2 separate regions of the Homo sapiens genome follow, and region 2 is linked to region 1. Evidence: fine-mapped expression QTL. Tissue or cell type: fibroblasts. Region 1 holds a variant in brackets; the other region holds the start of a gene. All regions are shown on one strand. Distances are between the middles of the regions.

Region 1 (8,100 bases):
CTGAGAAAATGTTTTCCTGTGCCCACATACCGTAGGGGAGGGCTGCCATTTCAACAGGGCTAACCCACAGCCATCAACAGTGGCTTCTATCAGCTTTTTGTAACTGTTCCTCTGACGGAAAGCTCCAGGGCAGCTGCATCATTTCCTTCCTCTTACATTTGTGCTCAAGGCTCACCCTGGTCAAGAAGCCTGGCTGCATTTCCCAGAGGTTCTTTTATCAGCCAGTAGAACCTATGACCTTGTACCCTCCGTGTTGCCCTTGCTGTCAGTCGGCTCTTGTTTATCCTTCCATCTTTTCTTTGTGAAATATCACTCAGAGATTTGTCCATAGGAGTGCTGAAAGAGCTTCCTCCATTTATGTCTTGACTGCTTCGTATTCCATAAAAAAATAGTTTGTTTAACCAGTCTCCTAGATAGAGGTTTCCTTTATTTGTAATCTTTTGCTTTCACAATGTTGCATTGAATGCTTCTGTATTTTCATCACGATGCGCACCTGTCAGTATAGGATAAACTCCTAGAGGTGGAACTACTGGGTCAAAGGGGATGTGCATGGAAAATTTTGCTAGCTGTTGTCCTCAAGCCTCTCCACACCAGCACTGTGAGCACATTTCCCCAAAACGTTGCCAACATCAGGAGTTCTACTTTTTGATATTTGCCAATCTGGTAGGTGAAAAATGTTTTCTCACTGTGGTTTTAATTAGTCTTTCTTTGATTAAAGAGACTGTGTATCTTTTCATATTTTAGAACTCTTTTTATTTCCTTTTCTGTTCACTGCCTGTTGGTGGCCTCTAACCATTTTTCTGATGGTCATTGGTCTTTTTCCTAATCATTTGAGGGAGCTCTTTATGTACTAGGGAAATTAGCCCTTTGTGATATGAATTGCAAATATTTGTTCTCAGTTTGTCATTTGTCTTTTGACTTTGCCCATAGTGGTATTTGCCATGCATAATTTTTTTTTTTTTTTTTTTTGAGACAGAGTCTCGCTCTGTCACCCAGGCTAGAGTGCAGTGGCGTGATCTCGGCTCACTGCAAGCTCCGCCTCCTGGGTTCACACCATTCTCCTGCCTCAGCCTCCTGAGTAGCTGGGACTACGGGTGCCTGCCACCACGACCGGCTAATTTTTTTTGTATTTTTAGTAGAGACGGGGTTTCACCATGTTAGCCAGGATGGCCTCGATCTCCTGACCTCGTGATCCTCCCGCCTCAGCCTCCCAGAGTGCTGGGATTACAGGCGTGAGCCACGGCGCCCGGCCGCATAATTTTTTTTAATGTTTGCATAATTAAATTTTTCAATTGTTTCTTTTGTGGCTTCTGGGATTTCTGGTTTCCTTAGAAAGGTCTTCTTCACTGCAAGATTATTTTTAAAAGCCTAGAATTTCTTCTAGCATATGAATGATTTCATTTTTATTTTGAAATGTTTCATCCTTCCAGAATTTATCCTGGTGTGAGGTGTGGCTCCAACATAATTTTTTTCAAGACGGCTACACTTTGTCCAACACTATTAAACAATCCATCTTTACCCCATTATTCAAATGCCACCTTTTTCACCAACTAAATTTCCTGGATGTATTTAGGCATATTTCCAGTCTTTTGTGTTCTGTTGATGGTCCTGAACATATACCATCAGCAGATTGCAGCTTTGTACTATGTTTTGCTGTGGGCAGTGGGGCGATGCTCATACCCCAGCACTGCTTGTTTTCATACTTTTCTTGGCTATTATAGCTGGTTCATTTTTCCAAATGAACTTTAGAATGCTTGTTTAATTCCACATATAAAAATCTTATTATTTTTATTGTGTATCTCTTAAGTTTATAGGTAATTTAGGGAAAATTGACATGTTTGTGATGCCAAGTTTTCCAGTGCAAGTTCATTTATTCAAGTCTTTGAGCCCGAAAGAGCATTATAAAGTTTTCTTATCTCCTTTTCTTGATTGTGAACTCCCTGGGAGCAAGAATGGGGTCAAGTTTTGAGTATGGCTTATTAGTAATGATCTATATAATTACTGACAAAAGAAACATAATTTTCATTAAATATTTGTAGAACCTACTTTTTCCTAACATCATTGCTTGCCATTTTATGAGTTGTTTTCTGCACATCAAAGAAAGGCAAGATGTAGTACAAATGCTGATGTCAAATGTCAGCATTTTAATCCTTAAAGTCATCTCTTGATTGGTGTGTTCTTTCTTTATTTATTTTTAATAAAAAATTGTATTTGCTTAGAAGCATTCAGAATGTCAACAAAATGGCTACAACTTTTTCTTTTTTTTTTTTTTTTTTGCAATTACAGAGTGGTATTCACTTAACAACAGTCATTTTATATAAGCTGCATCAGAGACAACTGAAGATGAAAAAACTACCATCCCCATATATAACTAATTTGTGCCATGCACTAACAAGAACCTGCTTTTAATTTCCATGCCAGTTTACAATCCCCATACTGTACTAGGCAAGGTTGGTGGCTATTGAAAATACCACCAGGACAGGGATATCTAAAGACACATTTGGTAGTGTGTTAACTATACAAAAAAAAAAAGACATTGTACAGTTTAAAAACAAATCTTACACAGCCTTACATTTCAGTTTTTTTCTTTAAAAGGAGTGAGTTATGTACAGGTTAAATGCTTTATAGACGAGAAAAAAAACTACACTAGAACCAACTTATTCATCATCATCTTCATCTTCCTCCTCCTCATTCTTATCCTCTTCATCTTCCTCATCTTCCTCCTCTTCCTTCTTTTTCTTGCTTTTTTCAGCCTTGACAACTCCCTTTTTTTGCTGCAGCAGGCTTTCCTTTAGCCCGATATGCAGCAATATCCTTTTCTTACTTTTCCTTCAGCTTCGCAGCCTTCTTTTTATAAGGCTGCCTGTCATCTGCAGCAATGTTATTCCACATCTCTCCCAGTTTCTTTGCAACATCATTAGTGGACAGGCCAGATGTTCTCCTTTGATATTTGGGCGATACTCAGAACAGAACAGAACAGGACAGAACAGAACAGGAAGAAGGCCGAAGGAGGCCTCTTGGGTGCACTGGGATCCTTTAACTTTTTTTTTTTTCTTTTGAGATGGAGTTTCCCTTTTGTTGCCCAGGCTGGAGTGCAATGGCGCAATCTCAGCTCACTGCAACCTCTGCCTCCCAGGTTCAAGCGATTCTTTTGCCTCAGCCTCCCGAGTAGCTGGGATTACAGACGCCCGCCACCATGCCTGGCAATTTTTTTTTTTTTTTCAGTAGAGACGGGCTTTCACTGTCTTGGCCAGGCTGGCCTCGAACTCCTGACCTTAGGTGATCTACCCGCCTCAGCCTCCCAAAGTGCTGAGATTACAGGCGTGAGCCACCACACCCAGCCTGAACGTCTTTTTTGTCTCCCCTTTAGGAAAGATACAGGTTTTCGTTTCTCTTTCGTATGGGCCCTGTCTGCCTTTGCCATATCTTCGAATTTTCCTTTCTGTTTAGTAGGCATGGTCTTCCACCTCTCTGAGCACTTCTTAGAAAACTCTGAGGAGTTGACTGAAGCATCTGGATGTTTGTTCTTATGTGCCTCCCTACAAGTTTGCACAAAAAATGCATATGATGGCATTTTCTCTCTTGGCTTCTTAGGGTCTCCTTTGCCCATGTTTAGTTATTTTTCCTCAGCAAGGCACAGAATTGCCCAGTGCCCATCTGGCTCTCACTTGCCCCAGTGCTATCTCTATGGAGCTCATTGTACTGCAATGGCTGTGATATCGGGAGCCAGGTGCAGCCTCCTCACTCTCTCCGCTCTATAACATTGCTCTCCAGCCAGCGCAGCTCCTAGTTGATTAGCGTGTTCTTAAAAGAGCATTCTGTGTAGGTAATCCAGGGGCTTCACATTTAGGTATTTGAGTTTTCCTCCACTAG[G/C]AATAGTGGCAAATATAATGTGATTTTCCAGCTCTAATCTTCCCTCCCCATAACGCTGGCACAGATTTTGAGGTAGCCTTGGCCTGGGAAGTAGCCAAAAGGCACTGTGTTGGACAAAGAGCAGACCATTGGCATCTATGTGCATGTCCTCAGGAGAGAGGTGACTAGGCAGATGGGGACAAGACACGGGTGCTCTGTGTTCTGAGCGTCAGCGTACATCCTGTTTGGTTAGCACAGAGTGAGTCTGGGAACTTTGCACTTAGCACCTTGGCAGCCCAGGTCTGGGAATAGTGGTGCCTTCTCCTAAAGTTAGGTCACTAATCTTTGACTGGCTGTTTGCAGGACCAGTTCTCTAACGGATCCAGGGTTCCAGTGGAACCCTGGAGACTGGAACTCTGGAGCTTCTTAATAAACTGCCTCCCTACTTAAAGCATGGTGTCAAAACCAGGTTGAAATGCAACGTGAGGAGAGAGGACTGTGCTTTGGTGTGCCTAGGGAGGATGTGACCAGTTCCGCGTGCTGTTTGTGAACAGGAAGATAGTGGGATCAGATGCATTTAACATGTGGATACAGTTCTGAGGGGTTTTAACTGGTTTTCTTTGAACTTTAGAAAAGCACATTTATTTTTCCTTGGAGCAAAAAAGTAGTTTCTTTTTAAGTGGTTTTATTGTAACTCATGGGGCTGTTCTCCTAACATTCATATTTTATAGTTTGCACGATATGCACAAAGGTCACAGATGTACCAGCCTGGCCCAGTGGCCTCCGTCCTGTATTTAGAAACCAGTTCGGGAACGGAAGAGGATTGCTCTTTTGTTTCCTCAGGCCACTTTTGGTCATTTCAGGCAGAAACAGTCTCTGCATTGGAATTTTCCTGTGCAGATCCTGCAATTCAGGAATAGAGCATTTAGCAACAACAGTGAAAATGTAATGTGTGACAGCTGTGGAGAAGAATTTGCCTCCAGTGAGGGGAAAATGCTGTGTTCAAAGTGGATTTCTGATGAGCCTATTAATGGGTGTTTGGGAAGCTGAATATGTTGCTGCCATTTTGAGATGAAAGGCCCAAGGTGTTTGTTCCTGAAGCTAATGAGGAAGCCCTTTCCCAGCCTCAGCCTTACCTCCCCAGTAGGACTGGTGAGATGTGCACACAGGGTCTACTCCACATCTGGCCCTCCTGAAAAGAAGGGCTTCCAGTGGGGGCTGTGTCCTAGTGGAGAAGGGTGAAGCCCAGTGGGATGGGCTCACGAAGGACCTGCTGTTGACCTGCTGGCTTCAGGTCCACCAGGCTAGGGGTAGATAGGCCAGAAAAGAAACCAGAGGTGTCTGTGGTAGGAGCAGCAAGGGCCCTGGCTTCCAGGCCTGTGGAGCAGGGAGGCTCTGGCAGTTCAGGATCTGGAAAAGAACTGACAAAATGTTCTCCTAAACTCTGGCCCTTGCCGGCTTCCTTACCTTTCCTGTGTGCACACACATGCATGCACATGCACATGTGCACACACAGGAAGGCCTGGAACTCAGTTTGCAGACTCGTGGAGCTGCCACAAAGCTTCACTCCCAGTGTTTCCCCCACCACTGATGCTTGTCCTCCTGGGTTTATTCTCACCCATGAAAGTAGGGTAAAAATGTATCCCCAAATCAAACACCTGTCACCTTTCTAGAAGCACTTCCATCCTCTCTTGCTCTCACTGTCATCGCTCTCCTGGATCTTTGGGGAGATATTCAGTATGATTTTGTTAACATTCTGGCCTTATCTTAGAGATAATTAAATGTGAATATTCAAATTAATTAGCCCCCAGATGTATCTTCTGCAGAAAAAAACTCCTCTAACAAGAAGTCAGTTACAGTTGTGAGAAACATGCAAAACGAAAGAAATGTTTTTTTTCAAAGACCTGTGAAGACCACTGTAGAGAAGCTCCAACAAATTCAGTTTTCAATTTGAAGAAACATTATTTAATATAGAACATTTTGACAGTTGATCAGACAGGAGAAAATAGGCACAAAGCTGTTATTTTAACTTCTGGTTGGGGGAGTTGATGAGTCTTGAGTGTGATAAAGTAAGGAACGCTTTGGACTGAATCAGAGACCTGTCCTCTAATCCTAGCTTTTTTTTTTTCTTTTTTTTTCCTCATTTTTAAAACGGGGAAGACACCATTGCTCAGAATTGTGAAGATTAAGCTAGAAGGCCGGGCAGGATGGCTCACTTCTATAATTCCAGCACTGTGGGAGGCTGAGGTGGGAGGATTGCTTGAGCCCGGGAGATCAAGACCAGCCCTGGCGACATAGCAAGACCCTGTCTCTACAAAAAAAAATTAACTGGGCATGGTGGCATGTGCCTGTGGTCCCAGCTACTCAGGCGGCTGAGATGGGAGGATTGCTTGAGCATGGGAGGTTAAAGCTGCAGTGAGCCGTAGTTGTACCACTGCACTCCAGCCTGGGTGACAGAGTAAGACCTTGTCTCTAAAAATAAGTAAATAAATAAACTAGAGACATGACTCACCCAGCTCCTGATGGAGAGATTTGGTGCTCAGAAATATCTCTCCTCTCTGAGATCTTGGTACTCCCCATGATGCACTAAGTGAAATTGGTACTTCTCAGCCTCATGATTGTCTCCCCATAGTATCATCCTATTCTATCTCTCTGACCCCATTGCCCACCGCTCCTGTCTGTGACAGTAGCTGCCTGTGTATTCATCATGCATCCTACCTTCAGATTACGAATGCCACCAGGGCGGTCACTGTGTCCGGCTCTAATCTCTGTATGCCTCACAGCACTCGTATTTGTTGAATTTTATTAAATCAATATATAAGAGCCAAAATAAAATATAGGTAGAGGCAGGTTCGGACCTGATAACATCTTTGGTTTGGCCCCAGGTGCCAGCAGCACACTCCTAGTTGGGCATCCTCAGTCCATGTTGTCACTCTGAAAACAAATCTGTTTGTCAGAGTAAAGGTCACCTTTTTTTCTCAGTGGACAAATATTTTTTTCTGAAATGAAAAATTTGCTTTTCTTCCCTTGAGTGTGTGCACTCAAGTAAGCAGAGTGGAGGGCCTGTGAAGATGGGCATTCTCTCTGGAAACTGAGGAAACATCCCGAGCCTATGTCTCCTAACAGTCTTGGCACCTAACTAGAATCTGACCGGAGTTTCAGCACGCAGCCAGCAGAGGACATCACCAGCCATTTGAGTGTGCAGTTGTCTGGAGCAGCCACGCAGCAGGTCTCTGTAGCCCTGATGGAGAGAGTTTTCTTCTTGGGAGGGCTTCCCAGGATGATGTAACACCTCTGCGTTTTGCCTCAGTGGCTGAAGAGTCCCTTTGGACTTGGGTTTTGCAGAAAGAGAGGGGAGTCTGAGGGCAGAGTGTAAAGTGACACAGCCGGTGTGTAGAGCTGAGCAGCCTGTGTTAGGAACAGTCAGAGCCTGTGGACTTGTGAGGCTTCCACTCACGTGCTATGTTAGCAGTTCTTTTCCTCAAGCTCTACTGAAAGACCTGTGGACCTGACATTTTATGGTCACAAGCCCTGGAGAAGATAGCCATTCATTTTGCTGGATGACCTTTTAAATAAACCTCTAGAGTAAGTTCCAGGCAAATACTGGAGGTGGCTGTGTTTGCCCAACAGAATCCAGCAAAAACACTTCTCTGTGCTTGAAATTCCTTCTTGTACCTGATGCTTTGGAATTTAGGCAGGTGATAAATTAAAGATGAATTTCTTCTTTTTTTTTAACGTTACAATATAGTTAGCTATTATCTTGATATGCTTTCTAATATATAATGGAGTTACATATGTACATTTAACTTATGCAAATTCAACTCTACAGATTGAGAGAGAGACCCCCACACACACACAGACACACACATACACACACCACCTTATTTGTGCTGACCCTTCTGCCAGCTTCTCCATTCAAAGGAGCACAGGCCCCCCCTGTGTGTGATCTGGGAGCCTCACGTCACCTCTGCTGGTACCAGGGCCTGTGTGTCTCTCCTGCGAGAGAGAGCACCTTACTGTATCTTCACGTTTAAAGATGTGTTTTTGTTTTCCATTTCCTTTGTTTCACAACATGGCCTTAACCTCAAGCCACCAGTGCCATCTGTGCTTATCCACAGCCCCAGCCATCTTCGTGGCACTGAGGGAGAACTGCCTGGCTCCCTTTGCCCAGAGACAGTGTGTTACTAAGGGATGCTCAGGGCATAACTTTATTATAGTTAATAGTTTAGTTTCACTTTTTTTTTTTTG
Region 2 (8,100 bases), 240 kb before region 1:
CAAATGCAGGCGTTTCTGCCACTAAGTGACATCAGTAACACCTCTTTGTTGGATGCTAACTCAGCAGTAATGTAACCTCACATTGAGGGGGATGCCAAGAAAATCAAAAGGAATTAGCTGGGCACAGTGGCTTACACCTGTTATCCCAGCACTTTGGAGGCCAAGGAGGGTAGATCACCTGAGGTCAGGAGTTTGAGACCAGCTTGGCCAACATGGTAAAACCCCGTCTCTACTAAAAATATAAAAAATAGATGGGTGTGGTGGTGGGTGCCTGTAATCCCAGCTACTCCAGAGGCTGAGGCAGGAGAATTGCTTGAACCTGGGAGGCAGAGGTTGCAGTGAGCCGAGATCACACCTTTGCACTCCAGCCTGGGCGACAGAGTGAAACTGCATCTCAAAAAAAAAAGAAAAGAAAAACAAAAGGAATTATAAGAAAAGATCAGCCCTGTGCCCAAGAACAAAAGGCCAGGAGGAAGCTGGCCATTTTCCAGGCCTCTCTGAGAGAGGAGCAGCACACAGGCCCAAGGTTTCAAGTTAAACTCATTGAGGTTGGGTCTTGGCTCTGCCACCTGCTAGCTGGGTGACCCTGGGAAAGTCATTTGACCTCTCTGAACAGAAAATTTCCTCTCTCCAGAGAAGACTAAAGGGGAACTCGGGGGCTGAGGACAAGCACAGCCTTGAATGCTAAGGTCAGTGCACAGGACAGAGTCCTGTGTGGGAGTCAGGAGTGGCAATTGCCACTTGGTTGCTGCCTTGCCTCAGGTCCATCTCTGACCATCCCTGACCACTACCACTGAGGGGAGGGATGGGTAGCCTCTGCTCCCCTACCATGGCTATCCAGCCACCAACTCCTCAGGACCACCACAGAGGTGCCACCAGCTGGAAGGCCCAAGACCAAGTCCAGCCCAGTCACCTTGGCAGTGGATAGTTCCCCAAATCTTCTGGAGTCCTGTCTGGGCACTCAGACCTGGGCTCGGTATTGGAGCTGGACACACTGCATCCTGCTGAGTGACTTCGGGCAAGTTCACCTCTCTGTGCCTCCATTTCCTCATCTGTAAAAAAAAGGAACTTAAGGCCGGGTGCAGTGGCTCACACCTGTAATCCTACAGCATTTGGGGAAGCTGAGGGGGTGGATCACCTGAGGTCAGGAGTTCGAGACTGGCCTGGCCAACACAGTGAAACCCCCATCTCTAATGAAAATACAAAATTTAGCTGGGTGTGGTGGCAGATGCCTGTAATCCCAGCTACTGGGGTGGCTAAGGCAGGAGAATTGTTTGAACCCAGGAGGCGGAAGTTGCAGTGAGCCAAGACCACACCACTGCACTCCAGACTGGCCGACAGAGCAAGACTCCAGCTCAAAAAAAAAAAATGGGCTGTGGTGACAATTATAGAAGATGTATGATGTCTGGTCCCTGGCATGCAGCAGGTGCTCAACAAATGAACATGGCAAAGATTTCAGGCTCTAGAAGCAGATTGGCTGCCTGCATTCAGTTCTGGCTCCACCCACTTACTAACCCTCTGTCATTGGACAAGTCGCTGCACCTCTCTGAGCCTCAGTTTCTTCATCTTTAAAATGGGGGTCACAAGCCAGGCACAGTGCCTCATGCCTGTTATCCCTGCACTTTGGGAGGCTGAGGTGGGCAGATCACCTGAGGTCAAGAGTTCAAGACTAGCCTGGCCAACACGGTGAAACCCCATCTCTACTAAAAATACAAAAATTAGCCGAGTGTGGTGATGAGCGCTTGTAGTCCCAGCTACTCGGGAGGCTGAAGCAGAAGAATCGCTTGAACCCAGGAGGCGGAGGTTGCAGTGAGCCGAGATTGAGCCATTGCACTCCAGTCTGGGCAAGAAGAGTGAGACTCCATCTCAAAAAAAAAAAAAAAGTTGGGGTGGGGGGGGCGGTCACGACAATACCAAACAGAAAACACTCTCGTGAAGATTAAGGGAGAGAATAGCTGCAGAGCACTGAAAATACTGCTTGATGCTTGATAAGGAGCAAGCACTGGGAAAATATGACCTGTTACTACTCTGGTGAGCAGTTCACACAGTGAAGTCTTACACCATCTCAGTGGCTCTTTCTCCTCTCTCACTGCCTACGAGACAAAGTGGTCACCACTGCCTCCTCTTCACAGTTGAGGAAACTGAGGCCAAGAGAGTGGAGGTCAGTGAACTACCCAAGGCGTTATCTTTGTCAAATATCTCGAACTTAGAGAAAGTTCAGGTTTCCTGATGACCAGCCCTTTGCTTTTCCCAGGCGCCCCAGCCTAGGGACCCCTCCACCCAAGAACAATAAGCCTGGGCTTGGAGGGAGGGTAGGTGCCACCTCCCTGCCAGGTGCATGTCCGCACTGGGCCTTCCGTGAGTACAAGTCCCCCAGGTACCAGCAGGAGGCAGCATCGCCCGCGAGGTCTGCACGAGCGCTGCTCCCAGCGAGAAATTTGACATCCCTGTCCCTGTTTGCACAAGGCTTGATCTCCGCCTTTGAAACCTGCAGCCCCCAGGAGAATGAAAACCGGAGGTGTTTCCCAATCCGCTGGCCCGGGCGGCGTCGAGGGAGAGAAGCCAGGGCCCCTCTCAATCGCTGCCCCCTACTCCAGGGAGCACAGGCACTCCCGCGGGTCAGCGCTGGACACCAAGGTCCCAACAGGTTTACAGGCTGCCTGTGGCCTGTGGCTGCCAACGAGCTGGTGGCAGGACTGGGTCCAAGTGCCGTGCTGTTTCCATACTGGCTGCGCACAAGCCTACGTTTCTCCCTGAGGGTCGCCATCTCCCACCCAGGGCTCTGCCCTCCACCCTCCCTACCCTTCTGGCCTCGCTGTCCCTGGGGCAAGAACCCCGGTGAGCGAGGTCTGGAACCCATAGGCATCAGTTGCCTTTGCCCCAGGCGCCCAGAGCCGGCCAGCTGCGGTCCAGAGGCGCAGGTCCGCCAGCCGCCTCGCAGGTTGCCCTCAGCCCCTCCCAGGACTCCCGGGGCCCCCGGAGCATCCAACAGATACCCAGGGGCAGGGCCTGGGGCGCCGCGGACGGCACTGGAGGCAGCCGACCCTGGACAGACGACAGGGGAGAGAGCCAAGCGGACCCTGGCAGGAAGGGGGCTGGAGGCGGACGGTGGTCTCGGAGGCCACGGGGTCCGCTCGGGCTCTGCTCCCTCACGGTGGGCACGAGGGTCCGGCGCCCGCATCCCCGCGCCGCTCCCTCCCCACTTGTGCCCCGGGCGCCCCTCGCCCGCGATCACAGCCCATCTCAGCCCGGGCCTCCGCAGTGCCCGGCCCACGCCTCCTGCCCCTTCCCCGGACCCTGCCCGGGAGGTGTGGGGACCCGCAGGGCACCCAAAGCGGTAAGGGAGGAACCCGGCCCGCACACAGCCCCAGAAGCCCAGCGACCCCTAAGCCACGTACCGTCCCCAGGCAGCTCCTCGACGGCTAGAGCTCTCGGGGGCCGCGAGCTGTCCCGGTCCAAGGCAGCAGTCTGATTTCGGGGAAATTAAAAGGGCAGAAAGGAAGCGGCAGCAGAAAAACCCCCGCGCTCCCGCCAGACCAGCCCCTTAAAGGAACACGCGCACCTTTCCCTCCCAAGGGCTGGGCTCGAAGGGAGGAGCTGCTGCAGGCTTGAGCGGTCTCCAGACTCGCTGGGAACCACCGCAAAGAGGGTGTGCAAGAGTTGAGGCCCTCACGTCTTGGGAAAGGAGAGTAGGGGTGGAATAGGAGAGTTTGGGGAGGGGGGATCCCCTTAGAAAGCCTGGTATACCAAAAACAGTGGGAGTAAGCAGGGGAAGCCCCTGTCCAGCATTCTGCTAGGGGCTAAGGCTGCTCCCCACCTTTGATTGTGGAAGGGGTGAGACTTCTGTATTACTTTCTTTTCCAAATAGAAAGCAAGGGGGTGAGGCCAGGTGCAGTGAGTGGCTCATGCTTGTAACCCCAGCACTTTGGGAGGTGGAGGCCGGTGGATCACCTGAGGTCAGGAGTTCAAGACCAGCCTGGGCAACATGGTGAAACCCTGTCCCTACTAAAAATACAAAATTAGCTGGGCGTGGTGGAGCATGCCTGTAATCCCAGCTACTTGGGAGGCTGAGGCAGGAGAATTGCTTGAACCCAGGAGGCGGAGGTTGCAGTGAGCTGAGATCATGCCATTGTGCTCCAGCCTGGGCAACAAGAGCAAAACTCCGTCTCAAAAAAAAAAAAAAAAAAAAAGCAAGGGGTTGCTGATGTCCTCATGCCCCTGAGTTTGGCCATCATGAAACACTGGCCAGATTCCCAACTCACTGTCAGGCACATAGCAGGTGCTATCCCCAGCACATGGGGCTTGAATGAGTGGCCCTGGCTGGGAGGGGAGACACAGGGTGGGATACCTCTGCAGCCTGCAGGGGCAATCAGGCTTCTGAGTGGTCCTCCAACAGGGGTGGGCCTCCCTTCGGAATCCTGCTAATCAGCACAGCCATCCAGGCAGCCGCTCAGGATGCCTCTGTTTGGACAGGGTGTTTTCTTTCCTGTCCAGACCAATGGGGGCCCTGGCCTGGACAGCCCGATGTTTCCTCAGCAGAAAAGACTAAGGAGGTCCTTCAGCTTTGGCTGGGGGAAGGGTCGAAGGGTCACAGGGTCACAGAGCTCAGAGCCTCTTCCTAAACACAGCTCAAGTTGGCCCATGAGTGTGTGTGTGTGTGTGCATGTGTGTGTGTTACACACAGCCAGGGGCACATTGGAGCACAAAGAACTGTGATCAACAGGTAAACTACACCTAAAAGGAACGCCAGGCTTGATGGGCAAAGGGGAGCCAAGGTAGGTCCCTCTGCAGGTTCCCGACAGGGGAGAGGATGGACAGTAGGGAGAGCACATTTTGCTACAGTTAAGTCGAGTTGAACATGCCAGCCAGGGGTAGGGGTAGCCAGCAGGTGGAATCTGAACGCTCACCCTCTGCCTTGCAGTGGGGCAGAAAAAAGTCAATGTGTAGGGGTGATGGTAAAAGCTGGGCAAATGGAAGACACTGCTGAGGGAGAGAAGCCAAGGAAGGAAGGAGGGGGTCAGGAGTGAGGGGACTCCACTCCAGGGTCCCAGGAGGGGGACTTTTAGAAGGCTGTGGCCAACCCATCCCAGAGCAGAGATGCTTCTCCCACTGTCTGCTTATCCCCAGGGTATGCTGGAACAGGGGTTCAGGGCAGGAAACTCCCCCGGGAGGGAGACCTGAGGCTTGGAAGCACGCAGAAAGGCTTGGCTCTAAACCCAATCCACACCGCTCCGCAGAAGAGAGCTCTGAAACGGGAGGCAGTAGGCCAAGGGACACCCAGGGGAAGGGAGTCCCCCATCCTCAGTTCCTACGAAGACCACGGCCTGGGCCTTTTATTCAGACCCTGCTAGGCCCAGGAGCCCAGCAACCGCAGGTCTCAGAAAGGAACCACTTCCAGACACATTTCCCTGATGTGGTTCCAGCAAAGCCACGCCCTCCCTTTGGCAGCCCTGTGGCCCCACCTCCTGCTGCTCAGAGGCGGCCCCACCTCCTGCTGCTCAGAGGCGGCCCCACCTCCTGCTGCTCAGATGCACCCCCTGCCTGCAGAACACAGCCGGCTCCCAAAGTTTGGAAAAATTCACCTTGACAAAGAGGGTGGTTTTTCCTACACCCCTTCCCAAGCTAGCCAAGCCTCTGCCTGCAAGTCACCCTTCCAGATCACCAAGACACTGGCCCGCAAGGCCCACCCCCACTTCTTGATGACCCCCACACAGGGGAGGGCAGAGAGGGTATCCCTGGAGCACACACGCCAGTGGCCTACCAGGAACCAGTGTGTTCAGGCAGGAGGCCTCATGCCCACTTGGCAGAGCCCCGGCCCCCTCCTCCAGTCCCACGCTGCACCCACCCCAGGAACTCCCGCAGTTCGGAAGGCATCCAGGTTCACTGAGTTTCTTATAGTTTCTCCAGCCCACCACTCCAGTTGCAGAGAGAATGGAAACTGCTGAAGGGGAAAACCAGCTGCCCCAGCCAGTCTTCCTGGCAGGAAGGGAGCAAAAGCATTCAGGAGACAGTGTCTGCCAGCACTCGCTGGGCCCCTGACCAGGCAGCAGTTGTAGGGCTCAGGGCCAGACGGCATGGAGGTAGAAAGCAGAGGGAAGAGGGGAAGTCAGGTTTTGAGGACCTGGAAGTCCTGACTTCCTTCAGGCCGCCCTGGACCAAAGTCTCCAGCCTCCTGCTATGAAGCTATGTGTAGTCAGGCAGGTGACATAAAGAAAGATGGGGCTGGGCACGGTGGCTCACGCCTGTAATCCCAGCACTTTGGGAGGCCGAGGCAGGTGGATCACAAGGTCAAGAGATTGAGACAATCCTGGCCAACACGGTGAAACCCTGTCTCTACTAAAAATATAAAACTTAGCTGGGCATGGTGGTGTGCACCTATAGTCCCAGCTACTTGGGAGGCTGAGGTAGGAGAAATGCTTGAACCCAGGAGGCAGAGATTGCAATGAGCCGAGATCACACCACTGCACTCCAGCCTGGCGACAGAGCAAGACTCCATCTCAAAAAAAAAAAAAAAAAAGCAAGCAAGCAAGCTGGGGCTCAGGGAGGACCACAGGTGGGGGATGGGGAAACCAGCGCAATTTAAATCCCATTCCCATGAAACAATAACGAACCACACCAAGAGTTCCCGTGAAGAAGATAAATATATTTTGGAAGCTGCCTGTGTCCTCTGGGGTGAAAAGCCAGCATAGAGGGCCCCAAACGCCCACCCTGCCAACCCATGCCCTCCTCTGACCTCGCTCCCTTTCTCCCCATAGACCCGCCCCACCCCCTTCTGTGTCGCTGGGCTTCAGGACAAGGGGCAAGAGAGGCAACCAGGGAGACAAGGGGAAGTGTCTTGGGGACAGGGGGCCACAGCAGTTGTGGCCACATGGTACCCCAGGGCCGACGCAGGGCCGACGGGCAAGAGGCTGTTATCTCCAGCCTGGCGCTTCCGGGCCTTTCTTGAGGCCACCATGGGAATGTGATGTGTGAGAGAGGGGCTAGGAGAGACAGAGACACACGCACCTGGGATCGGCGGTCCGGACAGGGGCAGGGAAACCACACGCCCTACTTTGCCCTTTCCTGTCCATCCCAGACCTACTCAGATCCCTCAGTGCCTAAGAAAACAGGACAGTGAGGACTGGGGGTTAGGGGACGGGGCTTAGGGGCTGGGGCAGGGCCCGTGAGAGGTGGAGGGTGGGAAAGAGGGAGGGAGGGGTGACTGTGTGGTGGTGCTGCCTCTGAACACCCTCCCCTTCCCCAGTCCCCAGCCCTATGGTGATTTAAAGGGGCTGAGAAGCCAAGAGGCAGCGGGCCCATGGAAAGCAGGAAGACCTGGGGGTGGCAGGTGGCCACTAACAGCCCAGCAGCTCCAGGCGCAGGGCGATGCGGTTGTGCCAGGCTACAGGCAGGATGCGCACATAGCGAGCCAGGATGGGCGTCTCAAACAAGTTCTTCTTGTGGGAGTGGTTGTCCCAGTTGCCAGGGAAGATCTAGAGGCAGAGCGGGTGTCAGGAGGACCCCGAGCCAGCCCCCCTCCCCTCAGAGCCCCAGGCCAGACTCCCAGGGAAGTAATGAAGGAATGGCAAAGGGTGGGCAGCTGGACAGACACCCACCTTACTGCTGCCAGTCCTGGGGTCCTGGTACTCAGTCCAGTTCGCACTGTCATTACTGTAGGCAACCTTGTAGGATGCCACAAACTGGACAGAGCCAAAGTTACGGGCCCCCTGGGTGATGATGCCTGTCACCTCCTTCGAGGAGCCCAGGTCCACCTACAGAAGAAACCAACCACATTTTCTCTGCTTGGACCATCTCCAGTAAGGTGAAAAGAGGCAGACACACTGAGGCATGAATTCTAGTTTTGAAAAAAACTACTTGGGTGAGCCTCAGTTTCTTTGGCTATAAAATGGGCATAAGGCCGGACATGGTGTCTCATGCCTATAATCCCAACACTTTGGGAGAGACTTGAGGCAGGTGGATCACCTGAGGTCAGGAGTTCGAGACCAGCCTGACCAACATGGTGAAACCCCGTCTCTACTAAAAATACAAAAAATTAGCTGGGCATGATGGTGGCTGCCTGTAATCCCAGCTACTAGGGAGGCTGAGTCAGAAGAACCGCTT

What was found. PIP is the estimated chance that this variant, and not a neighbour inherited with it, causes the effect.
Region 2: HAPLN3 starts here. The variant in region 1 is fine-mapped to the expression of HAPLN3 in fibroblasts (GTEx, PIP above 0.99).

The regions. Positions count from the first base shown.
Region 1 is chr15:89,132,886-89,140,985 of GRCh38, forward strand. All of the region lies in intron 3 of ABHD2 (abhydrolase domain containing 2, acylglycerol lipase), which reads left to right. It also overlaps the pseudogene HMGB1P8. Among named protein-coding and RNA genes, the nearest start is that of ABHD2, 48 kb to the left of the region's middle. RefSeq lists enhancers at 6,675-7,176, 7,177-7,676. The variant G/C (reference allele first, on the strand shown) is at 3,874.
Region 2 is chr15:88,892,061-88,900,160 of GRCh38, forward strand. It overlaps HAPLN3 (hyaluronan and proteoglycan link protein 3), which reads right to left and starts at 3,484. Exons shown (of 5, transcript NM_178232.4): 1 at 3,399-3,484. MFGE8 (milk fat globule EGF and factor V/VIII domain containing) reads right to left here. Exons shown (of 8, transcript NM_005928.4): 7 at 7,596-7,751; 8 at 6,623-7,472. The coding sequence ends at 7,335. RefSeq lists enhancers at 2,710-3,321, 5,318-5,612, 5,549-5,598.